Linked DNA regions of Homo sapiens. The protein of the gene in region 1 interacts with the protein of each later gene in a pairwise test. Each region holds a gene or a part of one and is shown in the gene's direction. Other genes may lie near its edges. The genes, in order: SUB1, ABCD3 and PABIR3.

Evidence for each region.
Region 2: the proteins of SUB1 (region 1) and ABCD3 interact in binary tests that used the Homo sapiens proteins (3 or more experiments, as listed by UniProt).
Region 3: the proteins of SUB1 (region 1) and PABIR3 interact in binary tests that used the Homo sapiens proteins (3 or more experiments, as listed by UniProt).

The regions. Positions count from the first base shown.
Region 1 is NC_000005.10:32,578,667-32,589,154, forward strand, and holds the start of SUB1 (activated RNA polymerase II transcriptional coactivator p15), read left to right. Parts: upstream 1-6,890; 5' UTR 6,891-6,959; exon of another isoform or gene 6,960-7,305; intron 7,306-7,702; exon of another isoform or gene 7,703-7,835; intron 7,836-9,845; 5' UTR 9,846-9,846; coding exon 9,847-9,918; intron 9,919-10,488.
Region 2 is NC_000001.11:94,412,369-94,422,917, forward strand, and holds the start of ABCD3 (ATP-binding cassette sub-family D member 3), read left to right. Parts: upstream 1-6,020; 5' UTR 6,021-6,110; coding exon 6,111-6,220; intron 6,221-10,549. UniProt on the Homo sapiens protein: Broad substrate specificity ATP-dependent transporter of the ATP-binding cassette (ABC) family that catalyzes the transport of long-chain fatty acids (LCFA)-CoA, dicarboxylic acids-CoA, long-branched-chain fatty acids-CoA and bile acids from the cytosol to the peroxisome lumen for beta-oxydation.
Region 3 is NC_000023.11:134,801,391-134,812,600, forward strand, and holds the start of PABIR3 (PABIR family member 1), read left to right. Parts: upstream 1-5,846; 5' UTR 5,847-5,951; exon of another isoform or gene 5,952-6,149; coding exon of another isoform or gene 6,150-6,208; coding exon 6,209-6,318; intron 6,319-7,796; coding exon of another isoform or gene 7,797-7,983; exon of another isoform or gene 7,984-9,793; intron 9,794-11,210.

The DNA.
Region 1 (10,488 bases):
TATTTATTTATAATTACTTGAGTGAGAAGGAGTATTAAACTTTTGGAATTACATATTCTTAGCTTTTTTAATGTTGTACTATGAAAGTTCATTTTTGACGGTAGATAAAATACAAGGGTCTGTAGCAACTTGTTTGGTGGAAGAAAATTTTAGCGCATGGGTCATAGCGCTGCTATGGGGAGCAAGTTCAGTCCTTCCTTTTCTCCTCTCATCCATATTAAATTGCCCACTTTGGTCTCCAGATGACCAGCATTACCACTATAACTGCTGACAGAGGAATTTCACTCTGTTTGTTTTTGACTGCCATTGTTGGCTTTCTGATCTGGGATTATGTCTCATTGAAGCCAAGCCTACATAACACCAGGTGAACACTGTTGCTGGTTTCTTCCTCTCTGTCTCTAGGCCTAACACTCCAGGGTTTAGCAGGGCAGGAAAGGAAGAAGGAAAATTATTTTTCCCAGCTTCTTCAAAGCCTGTGAAGCAAGGATTTTTTTTTTTTTAAGACAGAGTCTTGCTCTGTCAGCCAGGCTGGAGTGCAGTGGTGTGATCTCAGCTCACAGCAACTTCACCCTCTCTCAGCTCACAGCAACTTCACCCTCTGAGGTTCAGGGGATTCTCCTGCCTCAGCCTCCCAGATAGCTGGGATTACAGGCATGTGCCACCACACCCAGCTAATTTTTGTATTTTTTAGTAGAGATGGGGTTTTGCCGTGTTGGCCAGGCTGGTCTTGAACTCCTGGCCTCAAGTGATCCACCTGCCTCAGCCTCCCAAAGTGCTGGGATTACAGGTGTGAGCCACCGAGCCCCACCCACAAGGCTTTTTATGCCTTAACTTTTTCTCACATCACTGCATCTGATGGATATAACTCACACCCTACAAAGAGTAGGTGCTCCCTGTGTCTCCTCTTGGGGAGAGTGTATATTGCCCCGTCTTAGTCTGCTGTAATAGAAATAACATAGACTGGGTGGCTTAAACAACACTTATTTTATTCAATTGTGGAGGCTGAGAAGTCCAAGATCAAGGTGCCTGCATATCTGGTGAGGGCCCACTTTCTGGTTTGCAGATGACTGCCTTCTTGTTGTATCTTTACATGGCAGAGAACAGAGACAGAATAATTAAGCTCTCTCTTGTCTCTTCTCATAACAGCATGAATCTATTTATGAGGGTTCCACCCTTATGACTAAGTATGCCCCAAAGTCCCCACCTATAATACCATCCCACTGGGATTAAGGGTTCAACATATGAATCTGGGGGAAAACACAAGCATTCAATCCATAACAACCCTCTTACCTTGTACTGTCTCCCTTCCCAGTTCTTCAGACTCACTAAACTGGAGGATGCCCAGGTTTTTGTTTTATTTGTTTTCTCTTTTGCATGTATGATCCACATGGCCCCATCCTAGGTGTTCCTAAAACCTCTAGACATCCAGAGCCACCATATCTTTTAATATCCAAATTGAATGGTTGGTGCTACCATTCCATGTGCCGTGGGACCTCCAGAATTCTTAAGTTTTCCCAAAATAACCTGGAAGGAGTTATGTTCTCCTAGTCATTCACGCTGTGATCTGCTTTCCTGCTTTAGCCTGGAGGTTAAACCAGAGGCGGCTGACCTCCCTAGGTGCCCACCACATCCCTGGCACATAAGCCTGTTCCTCTCCCTTTCTTTCTTGTTTCCTCTTCTTTGTATATTACTGGTATGTCTCTTGTGCTACAAACTCAGGCTCTCAGGAAATGTGACTTTCTTCATTTTCTTATGATTGTGTTTAATGATCACCATTTCACCTAGTGGTAAAAGCTTAATTGTGGCCAATTTCAGGTCAAACTCATAATTTCTCCCTTTCCCCCTTTCTCTCCTAAATTCTGGACAGAGGTGGGGTAGGATTACATGGTGTCAGAGCACTAAGGGTAGTGGTAGAGTCTGGCCCATTTTCCCCATCTGTCCATGACAGCCGCATTAGTCTGTTCTCGCATTGCTATAAAGATTTACCTGAGACTGGGCAACTTATAAAGAAAAGAGGTTTAATTAGTTCATGGTTCCACAGGCTGTGCAGGAAGCATGGCTGGAGAGGCCTCAGGAAACTTACAATCATGGTTGAAGGAGAAGGGGAAGCAGGCACATCCTACGTTGCTGGAGCAGGAGGAAGAGAGACAAGGGGGAGGAGCTACACACTGTTTTTTTTTTTCGTTTGTTTTGTTTTTTAGATGGAGTCTCGCTCTGTCGCCAGGCTGGAGTGCAGTGGCATGATCTCGGCTCACTGCAACCTCCGACTCCCTGGTTCAAGTGATTCTCCTGCCTCAGCCTCCCAAGTAGCTGGGATTACAGGCATGTGCCACCATTCCCAGCTAATTTTTGTAGTTTTAGTAGAGACAGGGTTTCACCATGTTGGCAAGAATGGTCTCGATCTCCTGACCTCGTGATCCACCCTCCTTAGCCTCCCAAAGTGTTGGGATTACAGGCATGAGCCACTGTGCCCGGCCGGTGCTACACACTTCTAAACAACCAGATCTCGTGAGAATTCACTCACTATTACGAGAACAGCAAGAGGGAGATCTGCCCCCAGGATCCAATCACTTCCCACCAGCCCCCTCCTCCAACATTGGGGATTACAACTCAACATGAGATTTGGGCAGGGACACAGATGGAGACCGTATCATTGGCCTTTGCTTAACAGTTCATCTTGTCTGATTCTTGATCCTTCTCACTTCTTCACACTGGTATTTGTTGAGATGTCCTTTGTTACAGCACTCTATGCAAGTTGAGGGTGGTGAGATTTCCTCTTCCTCACTGCAAGTCCTCCCCAGGTCTGCTGGCTGTCACTGACACATCTGTGCCACTCTTGGCCAAAGAGAAAGACATTCCCCTGAATGCTGCAGTACCCTGGGGCATCTCTGAACTCGGTGAGGAAGCCTGAGGTCGGCCATCCTGACACACCACACAGATATCTCTACCCCAACTCTGTGGTGGAGGGAGGGGCGCTTGGGTTGCAGAGGAGCTCGGAGAGCTCGGCTGCCTGGAAAGCAAGGCACCAGTTTGCTTTGCTCTCTCAGATCCCTAAGCCCTCTGGGAATTTGATGCTTCCTTCCTTCCCCAGGGCTGGTGTGGGGACAGACAGCAGAACTACTTCTCTACTCCTTAGACACTGAAGAGGGGCCTCATCTCCTTTCTCTTCTGACTCCTCCCTTTCACAGTTGCAATAATCTCTACAGGCGAGTGGGGTGGGCTAAAAGGAACTATTTTTGTTTGTTTGTTTTTGAGACAGGGTCTCAAAAACACCCAGGCTGTCACCCAGGCTGGAATGAATGCAGTGGCGCACTCATGGCTCACTGCAGCCTCGACCTCTCAGGCTCAAGCAATCCTCCTGCCTCAGCCTCCTGAGTAGCTGAGACTACAGGAACTTACCACTACACCCAGCTGATTTTTTTCTTTTTCTTTTTCTTTTTCTTTTTTTTTTTTTGAGATGGAGTCTGTCTCTGTCACCAGGCTGGAGTGCGGTGGCATGATCTTGACTCACTGCAACCTCTGCCTCCTGGGTTCAAGCGATTCTCCTGCCTCAGCCTCCTGAGTAGCTGGGACTACAGGCACGCACCATCACGCCCAGCTAATTTTTGTATTTTTAGTAGAGACGGGGTTTCACCATGTTGGCCAGGATGGTCTCGATCTCCTGACCTCGTGATCCACCCACCTGGACCTCCCAAAGTGCTGGGATTACAGGCGTGAGCCGCTGTGCCTGGCCCATTTTTTTGTATTTTTTGTAGAGACAGGGTCTCACTATGTTGTCCAGGCTGGTCTGCAACTCCTGGGCTCCAGTGATCCACCCACCTCGGCCTCCCAAATTGCTGGGATTACAGGCAGGATCCACAGCACCCAGCCAGAAAAAAACTTTAATAGCACATTACCTTAAATCTGTAATTTATGCCTGGAATCCTAATAGTTTAAAAAAGTCAAAAGCCAAGAATCTGGTCTGTGTGTTCTGGTCTAACATCCTTCTTCTAGTCAAATGCTGTAGCTGAGAAAACGGGGGATGGGGAAAGAGTGAAGGTCAGAAAGCAGGAAGTGCTAGTAACAAAAGCCACATTGGGTAAGATTTCAAAATAATATCCTGATACTTGAATAAGCCTTTTTCGGAAGCTTTGAAAGAAGTGAGTAACGGAGGGTGTCGACAGCATAAGGCCTTGGAGGGAACCGCATTAACAGTCCCGTGCCATACTCCAGGCCTCCAGGAACTTCTTCCTGGCAGTCTCCTCCTCAAGCTCTGTCCCTTTCATAGTTTGTGAGCTATTTCCCTTCTCAGCCCTACTTCCCAGTCTACCTCCCTTTCTGGGACACCTACAGATTCTCCAAATTCAGCACATTCCTTTTTGTGCCACCCTCTTCTTCCAGACCAAGGCTTGGAGTGGAAAGTGGGAGTTCTTTCACTTTTAAAGATGCCCTCTAGGAATTTGCCTATAAAAGGAGCTATTCCCCACCCCACAATGTACAAATGCATGTGAATTACACCTCCTTCCCATTCTATTATTTGAAAGCAACTGCTGTCTTTTTTTTTTTTTTTTTGAGACGGAGTTTCGCTCTTGTTGCCTAGGCTGGAGTGCAATGGGTGTGATCTAGGCTCAGTGCAGCCTCAGCTCACTGCAACCTCTGCCTCCTGGGTTCAAGCGATTCTCCTTGCCTCAGTCTCCCGAGTAGCTGACATTACAGGTGCCCGCTACCACGCCCGGCTAATTTTTTGTATTTTTAGTAGAGACGGGGTTTCATCAGGTTTGCAGGCTGGTCTCAAACCCCTAACCTCAGGTGATCCACCCGCCTCAGCCTCCCAAAATGCTGGGATTACAGGCATAAGCCACCACGCCTGGCCCCTATTTTGTTTAAAATAAAAAAGTTTCCTTCCTCTTTCATCTATGTAAAAAATTATTTTTGTTTATTTTCTTGAGTTATGTTTACCTTTTAAAAATGGGCAACGCTTAGGATCAAGGATTTTCGATTAGTTTTACAAAGTACCACACCCAGGAAAATTGAGCCAACAAATTTGCATGCAAAGTTTCAGGTCTCCCTACTTCTAAAAATGCATACCTCCTTAACAGCTCTCCACCTCCGACGCTTAGAGAACCGAAACCCAAACCTACAGCAGGCACACTGCCCAGGTTCCCTCAGTGACACAGAAACTGAATGAAAACTTGTTAAAGCAGGAAGGGTTGCAGATGGAGGGGATACCATATTAGTTTAAGTGTACGTGGTTTACCTTGAATATTAAGCATTTCTTTAGCTAGGTGTGGAGCTGCGCAGTGTCCCATGACAATGCATAATGTCAGTGTTTCTTTTCTTTTTTTTTTTGAGACGGAGTTTCACTCTGTCATCCAGGCTGGAGTGCAGTAGTACAATTTCAGCTCACTGCAACCTCCACTTCCCAGGTTCATATGATTCTCCTGTCTTACCCTCCTGAGTAGCTGGGCACACGCCACCACGCCCGCCTAATTTTTGTGTTTTTAGTAGAGACGGGGTTTCACCATATTTGTCAGGCTGGTCTCGAACTCCTGACCTCAGGCGATCCACCCGCCTCGGCCTCCCAAAGTGCTCGGATTACAGGGGTGAGCCACCGCGCCTGATGTCAGTGTTTATTTTCATGGCTTCTTTTATTTCATTATGATGGAGAGTTTCACAACAAACTAAGGGATTAGTTTGTATTTTTGTCAGCATTTAATCCTTTAAAAGTCAGGTAATTCTAGAAAGGGACGTGTGGGGGATGCTTTCACGTTTAGTGTTCAGACTTTGATTCCATCCGCTGTGTTCTTTGCGTCTCAACCCCATTACACATTCCGCTCCCAGCTTTAATGTTTGCAGGGAATATATAACTCTCTTCTCCTATAAGGGTGGGATGGGTGGGAACCACAGGTCTAACTGCTCCATATGTAGATCCAAACACTCCTCCCTTTCTGCAACCCACTGCCCTTCCTTAGCCTCTGTGGCATCTCCGATGTGCAATTCTGAGCTTCGACAGGATTCCATCCTCTACTTTGTAAAATCCCATACCATTCCTCTACCTGAGGCAGGAAAATAGGGTCTGGAGGGAGAGAACATAAGGACAATTCACGCTTCAGCTGTAACAGGAAATATCCTCTCCATAGGGCGTTAACTTTGGTTTCCTCGTCTATAAAATGGAGAGAACAGTCATTTCTGCTTTGGAACATGCTTGTTAGGATGAGTAATGTAAATTGCCTCCTGCAGCGTCTGACACGTAGTGGGTGCTTGATAAATCTTTGTTAATAGATATGCCTTTATATTGATTCTTAGCTGTAGGAAGTATTCATTCAAATACATATTCAAATAATCTTTTAGCTATATTCCTGCTTGTATATGGATTCCTCTTGCCTTCTGTGAACTCCCTTACATCTCCAGGACTTCAATACAGGAATAAGGAGTACTCCAAAGATTTCTTGCACTTTCTGGAATTAAACGCTGTGACTTTAGCTTCCTTCCTTTGGATTTTAGGAGGCAGAGGCATGTATTGAGGTGGGTGAAGTGGGGTAGGAAGACCATTTCTGGGAAAATGGGCCAGAGTATTGATCTTTTTCATTATGACCCCTTCGCTTCATTAGAGTAAACATTTATTGAACAAACGCAAAGCTTGGCGCTTGTCACTCATGTTTTATTGGCGTTTTCCTTTTTTTTAATTTTTTTTTAAGCTATCTCCTACAGGAAGGATATTAGCTCTTTCATTCTCTCAAGGGTCAGATGTAATCTTCCAACATCTGACTTTCGCGTCACCCATTTAGGAAGAGACGCGGTCCCTTTAAGGCCCTGGAAAGGGTCTAAGTGTTGGTTTCTGTGGGGAGGCCACGCCCCATCACGTGACCGCAGCCCCAGCGCGGCGGGGCCGGCGTCTCCTGGCTGCCGTCACTTCCGGTTCTCTGTCAGTCGCGAGCGAACGACCAAGAGGGTGTTCGACTGCTAGAGCCGAGCGAAGCGTGAGTGCGCGGGACCCCCTACCCCTACTCCTCGGGGCCCCCACCCTCCCAGCCGGGCCGTGAGCTGCCTTCGGCCCTCCACTCCTCTCGCCGGCAATGGCCGCGGGAAATGGCGGCTCTGCCTTACCTCCCCCTTCCCCTCGGCGTCCCCGGCCCCCTTCTCCGTTTCTGACTCCACGCCTGACGCGCTGTGGGCCCTTCCGCGGTAGACTCCTGTCCCCGGGGAGCCGAGTCGAGGCGGCGGGCGCTGCGGCCCGGGGCGGTAGATTGAGGGCGGCCGGGGAGTGAGGAGTCGCGGGGAGAGAGTCGCGGCGTCCCCGGGACAATGCGGCGGCGGCCTGCCTAGGTGGGGCGCGTGCGGTTACCTACTCTTCCCCCGCCCCTCGCCCTGAGCGGGGCGCTCTGGAGACTGGGAGAGCGGATGCGGGCGGGAGGGGGCCGGGGGAAGAACGGCTGATGTGCAGGGGGAGGGAACGCTTCGAGAGAAGAAAATGGCGCTTGGTGCAAATCCCGCCCCTTCCCACGCCGTCTTCTCCGCACTTCGCCGCCTCCCACGCCCCCTCCGACCAACCTGTCTCCCCTCGCCCGAGCGGCTGCTAGCCACGGGGTTCTAGCGGCTTGCTGGGGCCGCGCGACCCCTTCCCTGGTCTTGTGCTTGTCACCTTCCTGTTATACCGAAGTCGTGTGCCCTTCAGTCCTGGTTCATTTTCACCTCGTTTTTTTCTGATCTTTCCCTCAATCAGCAAAGGCTGAAGATTTCGTTTCTCTTTTTAAAGTTGCGTTTTGTATAAATTCTACAATAGTGGTTTCAGTATCAGTTACTTGAATTACAAGCTGCTTCTCCCCCCACCCCCACATTGGAACAGGCTCATTAAGGTAAATATATATTTGTTAAAAGTTTAGAGGCTGGTTTTAGTTACCGTTACCTTTCTTCTCCAGTGGACTTCTTTGGGTTGAGTACCAGGTGGTTCTTTGAAAAATTCTTAGGCCCCCAGGCAGTTTTTGATAACAGACGGTAGTTATGATCGACAGTTTCAAAGTGAAAAATTATGTTCAATTTAATTACCTTTTTAAAAAATATCTTTTTGTCGTATTAATTAGCATAAAAAACTTAACTAAATTGATTTTAGAGATGAGGTTGCAAAATGGAGCAGAAACAGGAAAAACGGATAAAACGTGGTCATGAACATTGCTTTTCCCTTCTGAATTTACCCTTGAAGACATTACCAGTTAAAATCAGATTGAGCTTTTTGAATTTAATGGCTAGGATTGGGGTGGCCCACTTCTTTTTCCTTGACCTCCTATTTTGGAACATATGCAATGTCAGTGCTAATGCAAGTTTCATCTAGAGAGCTAGATTATTTATGATTTTTTTTTAAGGAGGAATTTTAAGTCTTTTTTTCTTGTATTAAACAAATACAGTGTGTGATGTGTTTATTAGGCCCTTTAACGCATACAGAAATTAGCTAATTTATGCCTAGTGTTCCATTATTGGAACGCTAAGCATGTGGGAGTTATTTATGTGCTACTGCTCAAGATCATCGCCAAGGTCTGCTTGCATAAATTCAAAAAATTGCAACCTCTGGCATAAATGGGTTAATAGGACCTAATCTCTTCTGAGATGGGGAGAGCAAAAGATATTTTGATAATCAGCGTTTTATGACCTGGTGTTATAAGTGCCTTGAATAGAGGTATCCACGTATCTTGGAATTCCTTGAAATTTGGGGCTTAGGCTTACTGATAGTTTGCTTTCTGCAAACTTGCACTCAGGCACTCAGTAAACACCCACTTGTAAGCAAGGCACTAAGTTATCTATGTCTCTGGGGGGACCTGGGAAGTTACCAGCATGGTAGGAATTTGCGGGAAGGTTTTGCACCTCCCATAAATAGGTTTTGCACCTCCCATAAATAGGTTCTTCAAATTTTAATTATGTTCCAGAGTAGAAAAATCTGTGTAAAATGTAATGAATTGCTGTGAATTGTGTAAGATTTTTTTTTTTTTTTGAGATGGAGTCTTGCTTTGTTGCCCAGGCCGGAGTGCAATGATGTGACCTTGTGTCACTGCAACCTCTGCCTCCGGTGTTGAAGCGATTCTCCTGCCTCAGTCTCCCGAATTGCTGGGACTACAGGTGTGCCACCGTGCCCTGTTAATTTTTGTATTTTTAGTGGAGATAGGGTTTCACCATGTTGGCCAGGCTGGTCTCGAACTCCTGACCTCAGGTGATCCGCCTGCTTTGGCCTCCTAAAGTTTTGGGATTACAGGCGTGAACCATCGTTCCCGGCCTGAATTGCGTATAATTTTGTGTACTCTTGAATTAGTACCTGTCGTTATTTTGGTGATACGGCCAAAAAGTCAAAATATGAATAAAATATTATGTAAAAATTAATTAGATGTCACATTTGCATAGTACAGCTAGTTCCCTGTTGTGTAAATGTTGGGGTCAGTTCCCCATAGTGAATAATTTTACGTTAGTTCCAATCTCGTTGATGAGAAGTCTAAAGCAGTAATAGTAGAATTACATTTCTTCTGGTTTTAATAGTAATTGTTGTCTGCTGCCTTCTTGCAGTTTACCCTACCCATAGTGTGTAATGCCATTAAAACGAAGTATAGAAAGATCCATTGGCCTGGAGAAAGGTTAGAGGTGTAGGAGTGTATGACATTTAGTTCATTGTTCTTACTGGGTTCAGCACATTGCACCCTGCGTGTTATTTGCAACTTAAAAGGGTATAGATTAAAACTTGTGCTCAGTGTAACAACTCAGTACCACAAAAATGGTAGAATGAACCGTGGAACTTGTCCTTGATTTTTTTCTTTGATTGGGGGAGAGCTAAGTTGAAAGTAGTAGAGTACCTTATTAATTATTTTTGTAATGTATTTTTCTTTCAGGATGCCTAAATCAAAGGAACTTGTTTCTTCAAGCTCTTCTGGCAGTGATTCTGACAGTGAGGTTGACAAAAAGGTGACTACTGCTGCACCAAGTCATTTTGGTGATACTCAACAATATTGTCCATATCCCATTCTGAAGGATAGTAAAAGGTGTATTAACATCTTAAAATGAGGATCTAGCTGGGCGCGGTGGCTCATGCCTGTTATCCTACTTCTTTGGGAGGCCGAGGTGGCAGGATTGCTTGAGGCCAAGAGTTCAAGACCAACCAGGCTAACATAGCAAGAACCTGTCTCTTTAAAAAAATAAATAAATAAAAAATAAAAAATAAGAATGTGAATGGGTATTTCTGGAGGTACGGTTGGTCTCTGGACCACTTGACTAGAAGTGCCTAGGATGCTTTTTGCACATTCATACTCATAGGCCCTAAATCAGACTTAACAAGTCTTCTGTTGAGCATCATTAGGAACCCTAAAGTTGCAGAAACACTGCCTTGCATCCTAGGGTCATAGAATTCTAAGTAGGCCAAAGTCACTATTTGCCGTTATTTAGAAATTTACCAGATTTTTTTTTGTAAAATGTTAATTTTTTTTTTTAAAGACAGGGTCTTACTCTCTTGCCGAGGCTGGAGTGTGGTGGCACCAT
Region 2 (10,549 bases), on another chromosome or scaffold:
ACTAGCTCCGTTTACAAATGGTGATAAACTTTGCATATTCTTCCGCACCTGGCTTTTTTCTGCTTAATATTATATTTGAAAATCATATCAGTTCATATAAAATTGCTTCATTCTTTTAATGAGTGTATAATATTCCATTATATTTGTTTATCCAGACCTCCACTGATGGACATTTAGAAAAGTTCCCAATTCTTTGCTCTTACAAAGATGCATTATACCTATGATATTTTACTTATGTGAGAATACATCTGCAGAGTCAATTCCCTGGAGTGGAATTCTGGGTCAAAAGGTACATGCATTTGTAACTATTTTAAAGCTATTGCCCAGTTGTTCTTCTGGAGTTCATATTTATTTACCTGCCTCTCAGAACTAGTAATCAAAAATTACAGTGTTACCACACTTTGGGGTCTTTGCCAATCTGGCAGATAAAAATTGATTTTTAGTGTAGTTTTATTTTGTATCTCTATGATAAGAGTAATCCTTTCATATGTTTAAGAGCCATTTTAATTTTTTTATTGTGTGAGCTATATCATTATTTGCTCATTTTTTAAATTTAGCTTTTGGCCTTTTTCCTACTAATTTTAAGGTACTTTTAGAAAAATTAACCACTTATCTGTAAAAATAAGTGCAGTTTTCCCTTACAGTTTTCTTTCTACCCTGTTTACAGGTTGTTTTTAATCACAAAAAAAATGTTTAAGTTGTGAAATTTATTTATTTATTTTTTCTATGGCTTCTGGATTTTAATACCTAGAAAGGTCTTCCCCATGCCAAGATTATAAGATAAATGTATCATAAAAAATTCTGCCATCTTTTCTTCTAATATTTTTATGGTATCTTTTTTTTCCTTTTAAAAAATTCATTCTTTGAGCAATTTTGAATTTATCCTTTTTATTTTATTGGGAGTATGAGGTATGTATTCAATTTTTTTTTCAGATTATGTAGGATTAAAGAAAAATAAGATTTGGCTCTTTCCCTCATGATAGTTACTGCAATTTAAATAAATAAACACTACGGGAGCTCTGGCAGAAGCCTGAACAGGATGCAATGCGGACACAGTTGGGAGGAAAAGGGAGTACATTCCTCTTTGGGACCCTGATCTAGTGAGACAGGACTATCTGAGTCCATCAGAAAGTCTAGTAGTGGTGAACCTCAAAAAGGAAGAGGTTGAGATCTCAATCTCTTTCCTCCCAGGAGGCTCTCCTATGCAAACTTCCCCAATGCCAGCTTGGGCTAACTAGGGCTATTTGAAGAAACAGCCTTGTCAGGATGTCCTTTCCTTGGTGCAGTTGGGTACCTATTCTCCTTCCATTTCTAATTGGTAAGAGGGGCTTTTCAAGTGACTCTTTTCTGAGCAAAGATGATTTGTTCTCAGTGACTTGAGGTGTTTACCTTTCCAGAGAAATGATTGGCAGGTCTCTAAAAAAAATTTAAGATCTGCCTCCCCAGACACCCTACTACATATTAATAGAATTATATATGAAACAGTAGTAGTACAAAGAAGATAATAATTAACTTGGCAATGGGGTGAAGGGGTTAGGGGGGACTGGTCACAGATGACTGTTCAGAGTAGGAGACCATGAACGCTTCGTTTTAAAGGATAAACTGAGTTGAACGTGAGGATGTTAGGGTAGGAAGGGATTCAGGTAGAAGGAATAGGATATTCAAGGGAAGACTACAGAAGTGAATAGCAGGCATCTATCTCCTGGGGTAGGGGTAGAATATATCTGTAGGAGGGGAGAAGTGCCAAGATAGGAGTTAGAGAGGTAGGCAGAGCTTATATCATCACTGGGTTTGTGTGAGATGCTAAGGCTATTGCAGTTTATCTTGGTGATGAGAAACTAGTAAGGAATTTGTTTGCATCTCATTACCTTTCCTGATGAGCATGTACCACTTCTGTGTCTCCGACCTTGGGTAAATAGTATCACCCTCTTAGACACTCAGCAAGGCAATATCAGAATCAATGTAAAAATTTTCTTCCTATGAATTAATTATTTCACCTATTTCCATTTTATGTGAATCCACAAAGTCATTTTCTTCCTATTTGATCTGTGCTGCCCTGACTCACATGGTCACTACCTTTTACCTAGACTATTTCATGTGTTCAAACTGGTCCCTCTGCTTGATGGTTCCTCCTTCAGCCCACTCTACACACTGCCACTAGCATGATCTTTCTTAAATAAATCCTGAGGTCACTACTCTTTCCCCAGACCTGCAATACACCTTTCTACATGCAGAATAAAAATCCTACCCGGTTGGATTGGTGTTTCAGACCCTCCACAAATTGACTTCAGTTAAACATTGCAAACTTTTCTCTCATTTCACATGCCTCCCTCAGCCTCCATCCACATCAGACTTAATCACCTTCCTCAATCTGCTTCGGTCTCTGCATCTTTGCTCCTGTTGTATCTTCTTCGGAATCCTCTTTTTTCCATCTGTTTTTCAAGGTCACAGTGTCTGCATAATAAATTACCCCCAAATTTAGTGACTTAATACAATAAACACATTACCTTCCACAGTTTCTACGAGTCAGGAATTTAGCAGCATCTTGGCTGAGCTGTCTGGTTTGAGATTACTCATGAGGTTGCAGTCACCTGAAGGCTTGACTGAGGATGGAGGATCTGCTTCCAAGATGGCCCACTCCCATGGCTAGCAAGCTGGTCTGGCTCCTGGTGGGAGGCCTCAGTTCCTCTCCAGGGCACTTTGAGTGCTCTCTGTGGCAGCTGGCTTCCCCAAGAGCAAGCAATCCAAGACACCAAGGCAGAAGCCACAGTGCCTTTTATAATCTGGCCTTTGAAGTCACATAGCATCACCTTCATTATACTCTTTTGGTCACAAAACTCAGCTCTGATGTGAGGGAAATTCCATGAGGGCATAAATATTAGGACACCATGATCACCAGGGACAATCTTGGAGTCTGGCTAACACAACATTTCTTCCAGAGGCTTTCTAGATTCACTAACTTCCTATGCCCTGCCTACCTGTTCTCAGTAGCTCAAATTCTTTAAAAATCAGAGCTCTTGGAGATCTCCCCCATAAAATCACATTTTCTGTTTTTCTTTATTATTTAATATTATGAAGTGTGAACTTGCAAAATTGCATTGTTAATTATCAAAGGACATAGTGCTGAGGAATTTTGTTCTCTAAAATCCTAGACTGTTAGAAAGTTTGTTGTTCTGAGATTCTATCAGTGAGAACAGAACATCCCTTTCTTGCCTGGCAGATTTGAACTCTTTGAGTCACTTAGAGTTACAGAAGCAGTCTCCATTTCCAGTGCAGAAGTTCAGATAAGGGATTTTCAGACACAATATTCTACATTAATCTTAAATGTATGTTTCTAAGAACTAGAATCTTGAATCTGCTTCTCAGCCCAGGTTTGATATTACATACAGATCTGATTTGCTTTAGGCCTATCAAGCACTGCTTTATTTAGATTTTACCTAAACTCCTCTCTTTCTCTAAATACTATAATGACTCCTTATTTCTTCCTTTTTTTTGAGACATGGCCACAATTCCTCTGCTGTATAGTATCTTTTGCTGTAGCAAATTAATAAACTTAATGGGTTCCAGATTTGGTCCTGGTGATTTTTGTCAGATGGGCTTTATCAATAGCTAAAATTATTTGAGCTCGAATAACTAGTGTAATTTTTTAGAATCTCCCATGCTTCTTGAACAAGGGTAACTTTTAGAATGTTTTGTCAATAGATCATTTCTATCTTTCCTCTGACTGTTTTGAAATCTATTTTCTAGACTGTTTTTGACTAATCTTGCTTGTACTTCCTTCACTGTTACAAACTCTAAGATGATACCGTTACTTTCTCACAAGGTTCCCAACTCTTTTCTAGCACTTTATTACTGAATTAGTAATTTCCTGTTTTGTCCTCCTGAGTGACTCCTGCGGTCCTTTAGAATTTAGCTACAGAATCACCTTTGTCAAGCCTTAAGCCTTTATTGAAAGCATTAGACAAAACTAAATATTTTCATGTTTGTGTTCTCATAGCACCTTGTTCATATCTCTAATATAGTACTTACCACATTTATACTTGATTTTTTTTACACGTTTTTCTTCTCTAACAGCCTCTGGAGAATATGATCTCCATGATCTGTTCATCCTTGTGTTATCTGTGCCAGGCATACTTAATTACGTAAATTATGTGAGGTCGTTGGGGCTCACAACACAATACTCCAAAATGAAGGTCTCAGTAGCAAAAGTTCTCTGCCCTACTCTGGCCCTCCTGTCTCTCAGTCCCGTATTTCCCTAGGCTAGCCATAGATATTAGGATCCCTATTCCTCAAGACAAGATGTAGAAACCAGAACCTCTATCCCCTAAAGCCAGCCATAAAAGCCTAAACATATTTTGCTAGTTTTCCCTCCCCCTTTTTCTGTAAAATCTGGCCATAAAGAAATTATCTGACCTGCCTTGTTTGACTGTAGGCTGTTAAGAGCTCCATTCCATTCCTGCCCTATACCCAGAAGGAAGGAATGGTGCTCAGAAGGCCAAGAAGAATCTAGACAGGCCTTGCTGGGTGTCCCCACTCAGTCTGTTAGCATTAGATTATACCATTTTTGTCCAATCACATTTCTACATAGCTGTCCATACTTTGTTGAACCTAAACACAAAAATGGACAATTTTCCAAGTATCTTTGGGTCTCCATTCTGAACGCTCCCATGTATACACATTAAATTTGTATGCCTTTTCTCCTATTAATTTTTTCTTCTATTAATCTGCCTTATGTCAGCGGTTTTCAGTTAACTTTCAGAGGGCCAAAACCTTTTGTCCCTCCAGGTAATGAAAATGTCCACATGACAAATAGTGAATTAGTAGGAGCTTCAGTTCTGCATAATTTAGAATTCACTGTTGAGCACCTCTATACGCATGCCATTATTGTACCTCGTCTTTGTGATCCTCATAACCTGTATTAGGCAACAGCTCATTTATATTGAGAAAACACCTAGGGCACAGCACCACTACTTTGTAGGCTACTTTAATATGTATGTGCATTATGCGAGGTTTTATGAGCTTATTTTCTGACACACTTGCTTTTCTCCAGTTTCCTCAGCTGAAAACAGCGATTCACTGTTACTGTATATATGCTAGGCTCAATGCTGGCGATAACAATTCCTGCAACATAGGGTCAGACAGGAGAAGAATGTTGTAATCTGCAAAGCCCTTCTGATTCTGGGAGTGAGGCCAGCATTAATACAACGCACGATTGTTACTTCTGAATGTCCCTTTGCAAAGAACAGTGTTTCTCAAACTTTTTTCTGACCAGATCTGCATACATTTTACATCGCCGCTGGCGATACATACGTGCAAAACACTGAAATCGAAATTTCTCTAAACAACTCCTTTACTACGTGATGTACTGTGAAACTTTTCTATTTTGTTCTATTCTCAATTTTATTAAAAACGGAGGGTGATGATCCCGATCTACCAAACCAATTTCACAATGCGCTAGAGATTATAACCCGCGGTTTGGAAAATACTGGCTTGGAAAAAGCTCTTTGATCTGTGTCATTCTCCTCACATCTCCCTACACCTCTGCGGAGTTCCGATTGTTTGGTTTCGTCCTGATAATCACTGTGCTGTGTTTTCCCTACACGCTCTGTGACGGGGCCGTCCGCCTCCTTCCTGGGCTCCTTTAAGAGGGTGGTAACGGTACATCACCGCGGGAGTGGAGAGGCAGGGCCCACTAGGTCGTCGCTGCAGGCCAGGCCCGCTCATCCAGTTATTGTGAAAGCCGGGGTGTGCGCGCGAAGAGTGGGAGGGTAGGGGTGAGGCAGGGGCAGCACTGACGCCTCGCAGGGCTGAGTAGCAACAGCTCCTCCGCGCCGCGTTTCCGGAGACCCTGAAGGAGTCCGCGCGTGCGCAGAGCGCGTCCCGGGAACTGTTCCGCCCACGGAGGCTGCCGAGCGCGCTCCCGCCGGGCCAAAGTACAAAGTGGGCTCCAGAGCGCGGGCGGCGCGGCGGCGCGAGCCAGGGGGCGGTCCTGCGCGGCCGGCCCCGCCCTCTGCTCTCCTCCCAGTCTCCCCCGCGCTGCGTGCAGTAAGGTAGCCGCCGCCGCCGCCGCCGCCGCGTCCCCTCGCCGGCTCGCTGGTACCGGCAGTGCCATGGCGGCCTTCAGCAAGTACTTGACGGCGCGAAACTCCTCGCTGGCTGGTGCCGCGTTCCTGCTGCTCTGCCTGCTCCACAAGCGGCGCCGCGCCCTCGGCCTGCACGGGTAAGAAGGCCCGTAGCCGTGCAGCTTTCCCGGGCTGGAGCGGGCGCTCCCCGCGCGCTCTCTCTCCCCACCCGGCCGACAGGTCTCTTTGCCCGACGGGGTCGGGCGGAGAGAGGGCCGACCGCGACTGCCGTGGGACTTCAATGTCAGGGTGTCCGCGAGTCCCCGCCACGACGGCGTCGGTCCCAGCTGGCCTGTCCGGCGACCTCGCTCCACCCCGGGAGTGCGAATTCTTCTGTGCCCGCGGGCGAACCGGCGCCCAGCCAGCACTCAGGCAGCGGCCTCCAGTTGGGGGTGGGAGGGGGATGCGGTGTGTCCCCCACCCCCTTCCCTACATCACCCCCTTCTGTGTCAACTTTCTGGGTGTGTTCTGGTTTTGCCATCTCATCTTCAGACCGTGAAGGATTTGTTTTGGGGACGTGGATGTGTGATTGAGGATGGGGATTGGATTCGCCAGGCTGGAGGCTGGTGTCTAAGTCACTTGGACGAGGTTTGGCTCGATTCCCGACTAACTGCTATTGAAAGTCGCGAGGGTGGCTTCTATGAAACTATTCCCGGTCCACTTGGCAGGATTGCCGTCTAAAGTGGTGAGCCCTTGGAGTCGGTGAACCCTTTGGTCGGTGAACATTTGGTCGGTGGCATTTCATCCGGAAAGGCTGGATCGGTTCTGTCGGACTTAGAGGGAAATGTTTTCCTTCCTGGGCTCTGTAGGTGAAAGATGAGAGTGTGGTTTAGGTGAGGATCAAGCTCCTTTTTAATGACACGCCACTGCTTCCACCGCGGGAGAATTTCAGTGCTTAGATTTAACTTTGGGAGGTTATCAGTTCAGAAAAAGTAAAAAAGAGAGAGCTGAATTACGGTTGCGACATACAGGTATGTATGTCACATACATGCAATTTTTATTTGCTGGACAAGTGAAAGAGAAAAGGCTACTTCCCAAGCGTTCTTGCCAGTCATTGAATATTTCGTATTAAATCTTGACATACTACTTTCATGAATTTTATTTCATTCATTCCTCTGAGCAGGTACTGTTGCCTCCCGTGTTTGATTTGCCTACAATATCTAATTAGTAGTAAAATTTGGGCTAAAACACAAATAGACTTCTAGTTTATAGTACCCTTTCCATTAAGTTCTTTCTAGCCGCCTTCTGTTTTTATCTTACTAGAGTCTGAAGTGATGATCTTTCTTTTCCTTCCTAAATCCATTTAACAGAGTTGAAAATGATTTGCAGCATAGTCTGGGCAATAACAGCGCTTACTCATTTTTCTTCTATTCAGTTTGCTTTTAAAAGGATTAATTTGGGAAAATAAAAAGCAAGTTTTTCTGTTGGTTTGTATGAACTCCCAGTTGCAAATAGAAGTTACCTGTTACCTGGGAACATGCCAGTAGAAAGAAGATGTTAGGTCCTTTAACTTGAATTCTGTTTTTGCAAAGAAGTGTTTCAGGGCATAGAACAGGTGTTTTAATATGGAGGAGGGGACTCGAGGACAGCCCTACAAGTTCTGGATTACTTTTATGATTATATGTATATGTGATATAGTATCACATACATGCCACATACATATAGTACACATAGAGCTTGAAGAATTTTTACAAGTAGAACACACTCGTGTAATCAGCACCCAGATCAAGAAACAGAACATTATCAGCACCCCAGAAATTCTCCTCATGCCCCCATCCAGTCACAGTCCACCTAACTACTAAACCAGTTTGTAAGACCATAGATTATTGCTAAGGGAAATTTTAAACAGAATCTATTGGGAAATAGTAGCGATAGAAGTAAAATAATGTAATAGAATTTGTCTTATTAAATAATTTTAGCTCCTCATTTGCCATTGTAAAATGCCTAAAAAAATTTTTTTTTGAGAAACTTTGTGAGCTTTTGTGGGGATTAAATTCTTTAGCAGGAGATGTACTGAACAAAAGATTATTATTAGTCTTTTGCATTGGGATGAGTGGGGAAAATCTCTATTTTACACAGTATTTTGTTGGAGGAGATTGCAGATTCTGAGCAGATAATCATGAAGTTTAAATTGTTGAGGTGAAATGATTGAACTATTTTGAAACCATTAAAAATGGTATTGAGTGTATTTTTGTAGATATTGTACTTCCAGAAGCTTACAAATATCTTTTAGTCACCACCTTTGGTATCACAGTTTGAAGATTAGAAGATTCTAACTTTATATTTGAGTGGGCTTTTGAATATCTTTGGTAACAGAACTGATTAATTTTAATATCTGGTGCTTAATTAAGGAAACTGTGGCTACTTGGCCTTCTTTTGTCTATGTTGTTAATAGTAGGTTGGTTTTAGAATATATATTCCCTTAGAATTGGATAGGTAATAGAGCTAGTAAAATCACTTTAAAAGTTACAGTGTAACATTATTCCAAACATTGGGAGAATGAGTAATTAAATGTTCTGGGTTACTTTTAATTTTTGTTAATGTAATTTTTTTCACTCAGTTAAATCTCATATATATGTGTGTGTGTTTCTGACCTTTTATTGTGGAAAATTTCACACATATAAAAAATAAATAGAATAATACAAGGATTGCCCAATGCACTTTACCCAAGGAGTACCAACAACATTCTATATTCTTGTTTCATCTATTTCAACCTGCCTGTCACCCCTTATTTTTATAGGTTTTTTAGGTAAAATTTATATACATTGAAATGTACAAATATTAGTTGTACATTTTTTAAACAAATGGATACACTATGTAACACATCCCTATGACAAATTAGAACATTTCTATCCCACCAGAAAGTTCCTTTGTATTCATTCCTGATCAGCTTGTATTCACTCCTGATTCCAGCACTGCTAAGCTAACTTTTTCACCTTAGTTTGCCTAATCTTACCTTTTATTTTATTATTTATGGGGAAAAGAAGAATCTTTTTACTCATGGATAAAGAGGGCTATTTAAAGGAAGTGTCTATTTCAGAATGTTATATTACTGTACTGGGAGCTATAAGATGTGTGTGTGTGTGTGTGTGTGTGTGTGTATTACAAAAATATATGACTTGTTTTCTCAGGGAGCTTACCTTCTTGTTAGGGAAAAGAAACTTAAACACTGATAGCAGAATGAAATGTACAGATAGACATGTCTTAGAAGTTTTGAGAAAGACAAGATTAATGTGTTTGGGAAGGGTTGGGGAAGGCTTCATGAAGGATGTGTGTTAAGCCTAGAAAGGGGGTAGGAGTGGATAACTGGAATAAAGTGACTGTTACAGCATCCTTTATCAGATTTTTGTTGCATTTATGTTAGAAAGAAACTTTGTGGTGCCCTTTCAATCCATCTTCCACTGCCACCAGAGCTCTTTTTAAGAAGCTCAGATATGATCATAATATTCCTTCATTAAAATCATTAATCTACTCTAAAATACAAACTTTCTGTATTCATGGTGTGGTCCTTCCCTACTTTTCCCACTCATCCAACCATAAGTGCTGGGATTACAGGCATGAGCCAACTTGCCCAGCTGATACTTCTTTTTCTTCAAGACTCAGTCAACACTTTGTCTTAGGTGTTTTCTGTCTTTTTCTGATTTCCAAACTGATGTAAGTGTCCTCTGCTTTTATGATACTGTAGGCCAGGGGTCCCCAACCCCCGGGCTGTGGACTGGTACAGGTTGGTGGCCTGTTAGGACCCAGCTGCACAGCCTGTGCAAGCGAGCATTACCACTTGAGCTCCGCCTCCTGTCAGATCAGCAGGGGCATTAGATTCTCATAGGAGCGTGAACCTGTTGTAAACTGCACATGTGAGGGATCTAGGTTGCACACTTCTTATGAGAATCTAATGCCTGATGATGTGAGGCAAAACAGTTTCATCCTGAAACCATCCCCCAACTCAACCCCAATTTGTGGAAAAATCGTGTTCCGCAAAACTGGTCCCTGGTGCCAAAAAGGTTGGAGACTACTGCTCTAGGTATCCCCTACTCTAGCACTTACCATTCTGTATTGTACTAGTTTGTTTTCTTGGCTTTTGCCTACATCAGATCCTGAGTTTCTTGAGGGCATGAACTGAGTCATCTTTAATTCCCTAGTTCGGCTCTGTCATGGGTTAGACAGTGTTTATAGAGAGGATAAATGACATAGGATAGTTGAAGAACTTTTAAGCGTAATTGACAGGCATTTGGAGATGCCTAGTACAAACATGAATAGAAACATTCTTTTTGCAGAAGTAATAGTTGTGTACCTGAGCATATATAACCTGACCTGGGTAGTGGGAAATCAGTGGGCCAATTTTAGAAGGCAGGGAATGGTACCAGTCTGTATAGCCATAGTATTTTATTATCTTTAAAAAACAGAACAGAACAAAGCAGTTTCTTTCG
Region 3 (11,210 bases), on another chromosome or scaffold:
TGCCCTTGGTTTTGTTTTGTTGATGACTCATGTTTGATCTGGAAGCTAGCCAAAGCAGAAAGCCCCCATTCAGCTTAAGGCCTGATGATCATCAGGGGTTGGGATTATGTCCCAGGGACCCTTTGGCCCTCCAGGGCAGTCCCATTTCCAGTGGCCGAGCTTGTGGCAGAGGGGGCAAGCCATGCGGGGGTTTTTCGTCATTCATGCCATAGGGCCAGTTTGCCTTCCAGTGGCCTGGGCTTCTGCACTGATGGCAGTTATCTGGAGGAGTATCCTTAGGGCAGCCTGGAATGGAGGCTGGGGGCTTGCAAAGCAGCCAACAGTTGAGCCTGCTTCTTGTCCCTGCATTTTTCTTTCTCCTTAGCCCTGTCCTTATCCTGCTCTTGGTTATAAAAGACTGAGGAGACTGATTTGAGGTTTTCTGCATAGGGGCCATGCTGTATTACAAAAGAAAATTCGACTTTTTTTTTTTTTTTAATCTGAGGGTTACATTTGTCTCAGCGTTTTGGGATGCAACTCATAGGTGAGTCTGACGGAATAGAGGAGGTTTGTCCCATGGTGGGACTGGAAAACGATGAGCTGCCGGGGACTAACGTCTGCTGCAGACACGAACCACACTCTCTCGCCGCCCCCACCCCCCTGCCCCACCAGGAAGAGGGCTCAACTCACATCTGCTGAGGGATTCCAGTGCACTTTCTTTTCTTTTCTTTTGAGATGGAATCTCGCTTTGTCGCCCAGGCTGGAGTGCAGTGGTGGGATCTCGGCTCACTGCAACCTCCGCCTCCCAGGTTCAAGCGATTCTCCTGTGTCAGCCTCCCAGGTAGCTGGGATTACAGGCATGCACCACTACGTCCAGCTAATTTTTTGTATTTTTAGTAGAGATGGGGTTTCGCCATGTTGGCCAGGCTGGTCTTGAACTCCTGACCTCAGGTGATCCACCCACCTCGGCCTCCCAAAGTGCTGGGATTACAGGCATGAGCCACCGTGCCCGGCCTCAAGTGCACTCTCTAAAGGGGCATCCCACCTATTAGAAAGGACATCTCAGCGCTGGGGCCTTACGCTGGATGGTTAGCCCCGGTACAAGGAAAAAGGGTAAAGGAAGAACTCAGCCTGGTCCCATCCCAGGAGAGAGGACCAGAATGGGGAGACTCACTGCTCTGAGGCTGCTTGCTATCACCTAATTTGGGAACGTCCAGAGCAGGAGGTCTGGCTGTTTTTGCAGGACTATTTAGAGTAAGAAAGAGGGGCTCTGAGCTCCCCAAAACATATGTGCCAATTGCACTACATAGGGATTGCAGACCTTTTCGCCAGAAGAGATAGGAGAGGGCCTTCTTCCCTTCTAGGCAAGGCAGCCAAACCTGTTCACACCCGCTGGCCTTGAGGCCACACCAGGAAATGGCCCTGACCAGTTGCCATCAATTGCCAGAGGGATACTAGAATTTGTCCTCTGGAAGACTGAAAAGTAAAGCAAATTCTGAAGTCTCACAGAATCGTGGGACAGCAGTCTGGTGTCTTTCCACCAGGACCTTCTGGTTCCCTGGGGAGCAGCCCCGGCCAGGGACTTAAAATTATCTCAGGGTTTTGACACTGTCCAACGAGAGGTTGGAATTGGAGGAAAGGGAGAAAGTAGGGGAGAGGCCCATACGAACTACCAAAATGTTGCAGGTGCAGCTGGCCAGTGGCGCAGGTGGTAAAGGAATTGACCAAGACAGTTGTAGGTAAAGAAAGGCAGATTTACTAGAGAAGGTATGGAAGTATGTTGCAAGGAGGCAAAGGGCAGCACTGCAGAGGAGGAGCTGTCTGCAAAGAGGCAGGGGCTGGAGGGAGCTGGAGGGGGCTGCATGTGGAAACAAGTCATGCTGCTGGGGCCACATGTGGAAGGAGGTCTTTGTGCCCTAGGTCTCTCAGAACAATTTTTCATTGTTCTTCCCCACCTGGGGCCCCTTTCTCATTGTTTCTTACTTATCTTATCAGGACTCCACAAACTCTTTTAATCCTCACCACTTGAATGGCCCTGGGGAAGAGAAGGCCATTGCATTGAAATGTAATAGTTCTGAAATTGCTTTCAAAATTCAGCCAGAAATAATAATTTTGCCTGCCTCTTTTCAATTATCCCATACTAAACTTGCCAAGGCCAATTATCATTTTATTCCTCACTGTTTATGCTTTCTGCCTGCAGTATGAGGGATTTGTAAGTACTTTTAGATAGTTTCCTTTAAATTGCCTGTATTTTTCTCCCAGCTAGATTAGAAACAACAACCTCTGTTTTTGAGCAACTTAGGTATCTCTTTTTATCTCAAGGTCTCAGCAACCCTTAAGGCCAGCCCCACCTCCTACTCCCTGCTCAAAAGAAATTATAATACATTCTTTTGTTCACAATAGCTACTAAACAATCATTTGTTGACCACATGCATGCACTGACCTCAGGAGCTTAACAATTTAGGAGAACGCGAGGAGAATAATGCTACTTTGGCCATCATTTCTAGGTTTTATTAACATCATTCTTGCCTGCTAGTTTTTTTTTTTTTTTTAACCTTTCATGTAAATCTTTTGGGAAGGTTTGGGGTGTTTGTGGTTTGTAGATTTGGGTTTGACTTGTATTTGACTTGCTCTTGTGGTAACTAAAGGTTACAACGTAGCTTCAAGGTTGTCATGACAACTGGTAAAATAAAGAGCTGATTATCACATGTTTGTTGGTTCCCTTTTATAGGTGAGGGCCTGGGACAGACGCAGCAGACTGGGATATGCAAAGAGAGGAGTAGCCTAATTGTCAAGTCTAGATCTAACAAAAGCAGTGTCCCAAGATCATGGCATATTTCCCTGGAACTGGAAGGACTGATCAAGAAACACAGCTAGGTTGGTATAATAATGTGTGCGTAGAAATGGGGAGAAGTAAAAACAATTTCTTTAATGTTGTGTTTGCCATTGTAGCATATAGAATTCTTGCTGTTTTTGTATTACTTGTTCCTTTTGATATTCCAATTTGTGTATGTACTATGAGTCCTATTTATATCTTTACAGGTTTGGGGTTCCTGACATGTAGCTGTTCTTTTGTAAAAGAGAGCTCCTTCTCTTTGATAATAGCTGTAAACTTATTACCATCTCATATATTTAGTTATTTCATATTACTCCTTTTCTTAGAAACATAGTCCCTTAGTCACTCTTCCCTTGTCATTTTATTATACCTATTTTCTTAGTGTTGTTGTACTTATTTAAAAATTAGATACTTGTAATGCTTAGGCAGGATGAAATTTTGTCTATTTATTCAAAATATACGTATGAAACCTTACTACCTGCCAAGAATACTAGCAAAAGTTGAAAATTAAAATGAACACAATGGAGGTAAGATTCCCTTGTTCACTGGCCTGCTTCATATTTTTCTGTTATTCAGACAATTTGTTTTTTGACTCTGTTCTGTCTTTAATCACTGCCTTCTGCATTCATCCTGAATTTACTCAGCTTTAACCACCATCTTTTATAAACGTTCAGGTACCCTGGGAATTTTAACAGTGGCTTTTAGGACATCTTGATACTAGCCTGAATTCTCCTGCTATCTAATTATGTGCCATTAATCTCTTTGGAATTTTATCCAACTGTAAAATAGAAATGATTTACCTACTTTACAAGATAACTATGAAAGATAGGCTATTTAAACCTGCATTTATTCATAAAATAATTTCAGAAGTATTTATCAAGTGCTTATGAGTACAGAAATTCAAGGAGATATTCTGAGGCATCTCATTTTTTTTTTTACTTAAACAGAAGGGCAGAGGAATCTTGGCTTTGCCACTTAGTAGTTGCAACTTGAGTAAACCCCTCTGGGCTTTGGTTTCCTCCTGTGAAAAATGGGCATTGTGATGGTGCCTACCTCAAAGAATTATTGTAAACTTTAAATGCAATCACCTATTTAAAGTGATTAGGACAGTACCTGGCACATAGTAAGTGCCCAACAAACGGTAGCTATTACTAATCTGTCTTATATAAGGAATGGAGACTCCACATCATCCTCATGTCTGGGATTTAAGTAATCTAATTCTGCCTAATATACTCAAGTTTGTCTTATTCTATTCCCAGAATGAACAAAGAATACATATTTATTACCTTACATGTCATAACTTGTCACGAACTATCTCAAGACTGTCCCATTATTTTAAGTTCACCACTGGGTAGCTGAGCAGGGTTGATGATTGAACCAATCCAGATAAGTATGTGAAAACATTTTGTAGGCCAGGCGTGGAGGCTCATACCTGTAATCCCAGCACTTTGGGAGGCCGAGGCGGGTGGATCACCTGAGGTCGGGAGTTCGAGACCAGCCTGACCAACATGGAGAAACCCCATCTCTACTAAAAATACAAAATTAGCTGGGAGTGGTGGCACATGCCTGTAATCCCAGCTACTCTGGAGGCTGAGTCAGGAGAATCGCTTGAACCAGGGAGGTGGAGGTTGTGGTGAGCCAAGATTGCGCCATTGCACTCCAGCCTGGGCAACAAGAGCGAAACTCCGTCTCAAAAAAAAAAAAATGTTATCCGTAAAGTGCTATACCAGTGTTATGACTATTTTAATTAATAACTCCCATTTCACTAGGTTTATTTGCCTTGTCTGCCAGTTCTCTATATGGTTACTAAAATGTGTGGTTTTACAAAATTATTAGCATGGAGTTAAGATTTCAGTACTCAGTGTGGCTCATTAAGTGATGGTGAAAATTTCTAAAAGAGTAGTTCTTAAAACGATATGAGCCATGGCAGCATTCTTAGAATGTATGTAGCTTCTAATACTACCTGAAATGAAAACACTGATTTGCATTGATACTAAATTCTGAGATATTTGTTTTTAAAAAAGCCTCACTGCTTTAACTCAAATCTTTGTAAATTAGCTGAGGTCTTTATTTTTTATATGAATAGCTGTGAGGAGCCAGATTATATATAATGTAAAAATACACACTGAGGCAGGCGCGGTGGCTCACGCCTGTAATCCCAGCACTTTGGGAGGACGAGGCGGGCGGATCACCTGAGGTCCAGGAGTTCGAGACCAGCCTGGCCAACATGGTGAAACCCCGTCTCTACTAAAATACAAAAATTAACCAGGCGTGGTGGCGAGCACCTGTAATCCCAGCTACTCGGGAGGCTGAGGCAGGAGAATCGCTTGAACCTGGGAGGTGGAGGTTGCAGTGAGCCGAGATCGCGGCCACTGCACTCCAGCCTGAGCAACAAGAGCGAAATTCCATCTCAAAAAAAAAAAAACAAAAAACTGTACGATTATGGTTTAAAAAAGAAAGAAAGAAACCACACTGAAAACAGTAATTCGTTTGCCAAATGAGCTCAGTTAGGTTAGCACCTTAGCAAGACCCTTTGGGACCAAGTGGCCTCTAAGCACTTAGGTAGCAGTATCTTTTTTTTTTTTTTTTTTTCAGACTTTTGCTTTTCTAAAATTACAAAGGTGTAGTGTGTCTGCTGTTACAGGATGGAAAAATGCATCATAGGAGGTTAGAAGCTTGTTGGCCTCAGTCATAAAGGGATAAGAAAAATGAGAATTAGGCATAGGGCAGGAAGGACCTCACTCCTCCCAACGCTTTCATTTCTAAATAATGCTTAAGGAAACCATGCCAGGGTTAGTAAAAGAGTAGAGGCACAACCACGGTAAGTGGGCATTGGGGAAAGAGGAAGGAGGGCAGGACATGGGGATAAAGCGGTTTCTTAACTGCGCGTGCGCCCCTGGCAAAGCTGACTAAGGCGCCTGAAGTGACGTCATTGCCTGCATCACAACAGGCGTCGTCCGGCTGATAGCTTATCGCAGGCTCTGAGGGGCGGGACCCAACTGATTGTCAAAGGCGGCAGATTGTAGTTTTTGTTTTGGCCGGAAAGGCTTACCATGAGTTGCCAGGGCTGAGAGAGATGGAGAAGGATTCGCGGCGGTGACAGATTAAATTCCCCAGTTACATTATAGACTTGGAGGTGGGGGATCTTCTCATCGTTAGAGGCCCCGATCATGGGAGATAGGCGGTTCGGAGCCAGTTCTGCCTAACTTTGTGTTCACTGATGTTAGGGCTGCTAGGGCTGCAAAGGTGGGCACCCCTACTCGCCTAAGAGCTTTCTCCTCTCTTCTCTTTTTCCCCTTTGCCTCTCTCCTTACATCACCTGCCCACTAAGTAGACTTGTCCTTGTGTGGACGGGAGCCGGAAAGCCTTGAGAACTTATTCCTCGACCCGGACATGGCACAGGAGAAAATGAAACTAGGTTTCAAGTCGCTGCCGAGTTCCACTACCGCAGACGGCAACATTCTGAGAAGAGTCAACAGTGCCCCTTTGATCAATGGACTTGGGTGAGCCGGGTTGAGATACTGGAGGAGGCAAGCGGTGGGGAGGAGGTGTTCGGGAAAGTGATTTCCTATAGAATTCCCGTCCCTTTATTTGTTGAGGTTCTGCAGGTAACTCCCTTGTTCCTGGTGTCCGGAGATCCCACCCTCAACCTTGGGTGGGGGTAGTGGGACGGGCTGACCTGAGGGGGAGCGCGCACCCACCCTGAGGTTGACAAACATCTGAATCTGAACATCCTCCCCTGATAGTCCACTCGGACCCGAAAGTAGCAGCCAGTTGGTGTGGAGCACGGCTTTTTTCTAACTTCAACCCATTTCTTACCCACTCCTTTGAAGAAACTTAGTATCCTCCCCCACTCACCTCCAGATCTTCTGCCATGACTGTAATATTTGTCATTTCAGCTGCTTTGTCACCTCTGACCTTCACCTCCAGCCGCTTGAATGGAAATGGTTGTCAAGCAAATAAGCTTTGGACTTTTTTACATTTTTTTTTTTGTCTTTTTTTGAGACGGAGTCTTGCTCTGTCGCCCAGGCTGGAGTGCATTGGCACGATCTCAGCTTACTGTAACCTCCGCCTCCTGGCTTCAAGCAATTCTCATGCCTCAGCCTCCCTAGTAGCTAGGATTACAGGCGCCCACCACCACACCTGGTAATTTTTTGTATTTTTATTTTTTATTTATTTGTTTATTTATTTTTGAGACGGAGTCTCACTCTGTCGCCCAGGCTGGAGTGCAGTGGCGTGATCTCGGCTCACTGCAAGCTCCACCTCCCGGGTTCACGCCATTCTCCTGACTCAGCCTCCCAAGTAGCTGGGACTACAGGCGCCCACCAACACTCCCGGCTAATTTTTTGTATTTTTAGTAGAGACAGGGTTTCACCGTGTTAGTCAGGATGGTCTTGATCTCCTGACCTCGTGATCCGCCCGCCTCGGCCTCCCAAAGTGCTGGGATTACAGGCGTAAGCCACCGTGCCCGGCCTAATTTTTTGTATTTTTAGTAGAGACAGGGTTTCACCATGTTGGCCAGGCTGGTCTCGAACTCCTGGCCTCAGGGGATCCGCCTGCCTCAGCCTCCCAAAGTGCTGGTATTACAGACGTGAGCCACTGCTCCTGGCCTACACCTATTTTTTATTGGAGCAGAAAGTTTTGGTACCACAGAAGCTTGATCTCCTAAATTACACATTCTCACTGGGTGATACTTCCCCCAAGGGGAAGAGAAAATAGTTCTTGGGGGAGTGTGAAAAATTTTTACTCTTTTTATGTATAAAGCGCAGATATACATACAGTATGTACACAGATATATACTATATATGTGTTATTAAAATTTCACGAAGGGGGAGCAATTAGGGGAAAAATGTCTAAAAAGGCTTTTTAGAGGGTCAATAATGAAAAAAGGATTTAGAAACACTACACTAAATGATGGTTAACTGTATTTCTGAAGATCTGGGATTACTAAATCTTGTTTCCTTTTTTTTTTTTTTTTAAGACGGAGTCTCACTGTGTCGCCCAGGCTGGAGTGCAGTGGCATGATCTCGGCTCACTGCAACCTCTGCCTCCCGGGTTCAAGCGATTCTCCTGCCTCAGACTCCCGAGTAGCTGGGACTTCAGGCACCCGCCACCACGCCCACCTAATTTTTTGTATTTTTAGTAGAGACGGGGTTTCACCGTGTTAGCCAGGATGGTCTTGATCTCCTGACCTTGTGATCCGCCCACCTTGGCCTCCCAAAGTGTTGGGATTACAGGCGTGAGCCACTGCGCCTGGCCTAAATCTTACTTCTTAAACTAGACTTTTAAAATGAGATGTTGGATTTCACATTTCAGTATTATAAGGTTTTCTAGATACCGTAAAAATGTCTGAAAAATGCATTCACTACATATGTTACTAACTTTGCTCTTCACCTTTTGTTGCATCATACTAATTGATAGTTGTAATTCACAGTACCATAGACTATCAGGAAGGGATTCAGAGACCAGCTTTACCCTCCTTGTTTAACATATGAGGAAACTGAGGCCCATAAATCTCCAAAATGACGTTTAGTGGCAGAGCCAGTACTAGGAAGCTCTGTTTCCTGACTCCTAAACTACTGTTCTGGCCACTACTAACCAATACCTAAGCTGATTAACTCTAAATGAATGCAGCTTTTGGGTCATTTGAGGTAGGAGAGAATATATTGTTCACAAAATGAAAAGCAAACTAAGATTGACCAAAAAAAAATACATTACCTTTTTAAAATAGGCAGGTAGAAAAACATAGAAGGGGGACTCTGCATGTTGTGCTGAGAACAAGAACATTTTATTCACTCAGGATTTTGCTCTAATTCTGTTGTGGGAAAAAGGAATTATGGGACCCACTCTACTAGTAGAAGAGAGCAGTAGGGAGAATGTTGGATTTATTGAAGACAATATAAAAAGAAGAAATAGGTTGCAAATAGACGATGGAAGATGTGTACTGGAAGGAACCTGTGGATCCTCTTTAATGTATTAAATACACCAGAGAAGGAGTGGACCCTTCCCTAATCCTTAAAGCCCTGGAAACAGAGAGATCTCAGTTATCCCTTCATACCTTGCTTTGTTCTGCAAAGGATTTTTTTGTTTTGTTTGTTTGTTTTTTGCTTATATTAGAGCATAGCTACAGTGTTACATTCCATAGCTTAAGATCCTGATGCATGAAGTAAAATTTGTACAGAAAGATAAGGGTCACTAGCATATTTCTGTAGTAGGAGTTTAAAGATACAGAAACCACAAAGTGGACGGAGTCCAGGGACTCTAGTCTGTCAGAAAGAAGTAACATAGGAATGATGTGTGACATCCCTGAGATTAGGGGACTTGCCCAGATGATCTGAGGGCATATTTTGTGCTGTTGTAGAAAATGTAGGGCATAGTCAGAGAAGTTATTCTGAAGCAAGAAAAATTTAGAGTAGGATTACACTGAGCCTTAGTTGAATTCATTTTCACCTCAGTTCTCATTTGCATATGTATACTGCTCACTTTTCTCCCTTTTTTTTTCCTTCCTTGGCCCTCTAATACTTGAGTACTTCCTCTTTCTAAACTATACCTGGCCAGTAAAGCATTCTTTTCAGAAAGGTGAAAGTCACTAGCATATTTCTTTAGTAGGAATTAAAGATATAGAAACCACAAAGTGGACAGAGTTCAGAGACTCCAGTCCCTCAGAAAGAAGTAACATAGGAATGATGTGTGACATGCCTGAGGTCAGGGAACTTGCCCAAATGATCTGAGGGGATGTTTTGTGCTGTTGTAGAAAATATTTAGCTTGCTAAACATTGTTGCACCTCTTTCAAGTAATTTTCGAACTTTGCTTGATGTTTCTTCTATATAAAGACCCTCTTGCACCAGCATTTGCAGAATTAAATTCCTTAGGTTTGTTTCTTTCATATCAACTCTTTAATACAGTATTACTGTTTTAAAGAAGTATCTGCACTGTTTTATGTATATCTTGAACTAATAAAAATTCCAACGTCAAAAGTTTTGAACCTCTTGGTTCTTTATACTCTTTATCTCTGTAATTGGCTGACTTTATTACTGGTGTCAATAACTATACTTAAAGCTAGGAGTTTTTTCTTCTCTTTCTCTGACCCTTATTCAAAGACTCAGAGATTAGGTTCTTGTATTCCTGCCAGTGCCTCCCTACCTTAAAAACCTCTACCTTGACCCTGCATTTAAACTGTTACTGCCTCAATTCTTTTTTTTTTTTTTCCTGAGATGGAGTCTTGAGGCTGGAGTGCAGTGGTTCAATCTCGGCTCACTGCAACCTCTGCCTCCTGGGCTCAAGCGATTCTCCTGCCTCAGCCTCCGAGTAGCTGGGACTACAGGCATGCACCACCACGCCAGGCTAATTTTTGTATTTTTAGTAGAGACGGGTTTCACTATGTTGGCCAGGCTAATTTTTGTATTTTTAGTAGAGATGGGTTTCACTATGTTGGCCAGGCTAGTCTTGAACCCTTGACCTTGTGATCCACCCACCTTGGCCTCCCAAAGTGCTGGGATTACAGGCGTGAGCCACCACTCCTGACCCTCAATTCTATTTGAAAGGCAAATTACTGCCCCAGAGCCAAATGCAGCCCACCACCTGGATTTGCAAATAAAATTTTATTGGAATGGAACCATCCCCATTTGTTTAGTTGTTATCTATGGCTACTTTCCCACTGCAGTGGCAGAACTGAGGAGTTGCAACAGATACTGTATGGCCCACAAATCCTAAAATATTTACTCTCTGGCCCTTCGCAGAAAAAGTTTGCCCATCTTCTGGTTTATTGAACTTTTACGAACGTGGAAGAATAGCAGCCATGAGAAATGATTGCTTTGGGAATATAAGTGACATAAATCTATTATAGTTTAGACAGAGCTGTTTATTGATCATTTGATGTGGAACATTGAACATCCATCCAGTTATACTACTTCTGCTTTTTCCGAGTTAAAAGTAGCACTTAGTTCAGATATCAGCTAGGGTTTTATAAATTCATGTTGAATGATGCATACCAGTTGAAGTATATATTGCCTGAATTCTTTCTTTCAGTTATAGTCTTACTAAAATTGGCAAACAAATTTAGGGTAGACTATATCATTGTCAGCCCTAAGTATTAAGCCCCCTACACATGTACACAAAAAAGAATGGAAAGAAATAGCCCATTAGTGTCCCTCCAATTTTCTTATGAGTGACTGCCAGAACATATTCCTATTCTCACAAAGAAAATGACTGGGAAAGTAAGTAGAATTAGATACATCCATATACCTTCCATTCACAAAATATTAAGTTACTGCCTGTTATATGCAAATTATGATGTTGCAAAGATGTATCTCAGGGCTCAATAAGCTTTAATAGGGAATATAAATACTAGAAGGACTTAAATATATGGTAGAGTAAGATAAGTGCGTAGGGAGC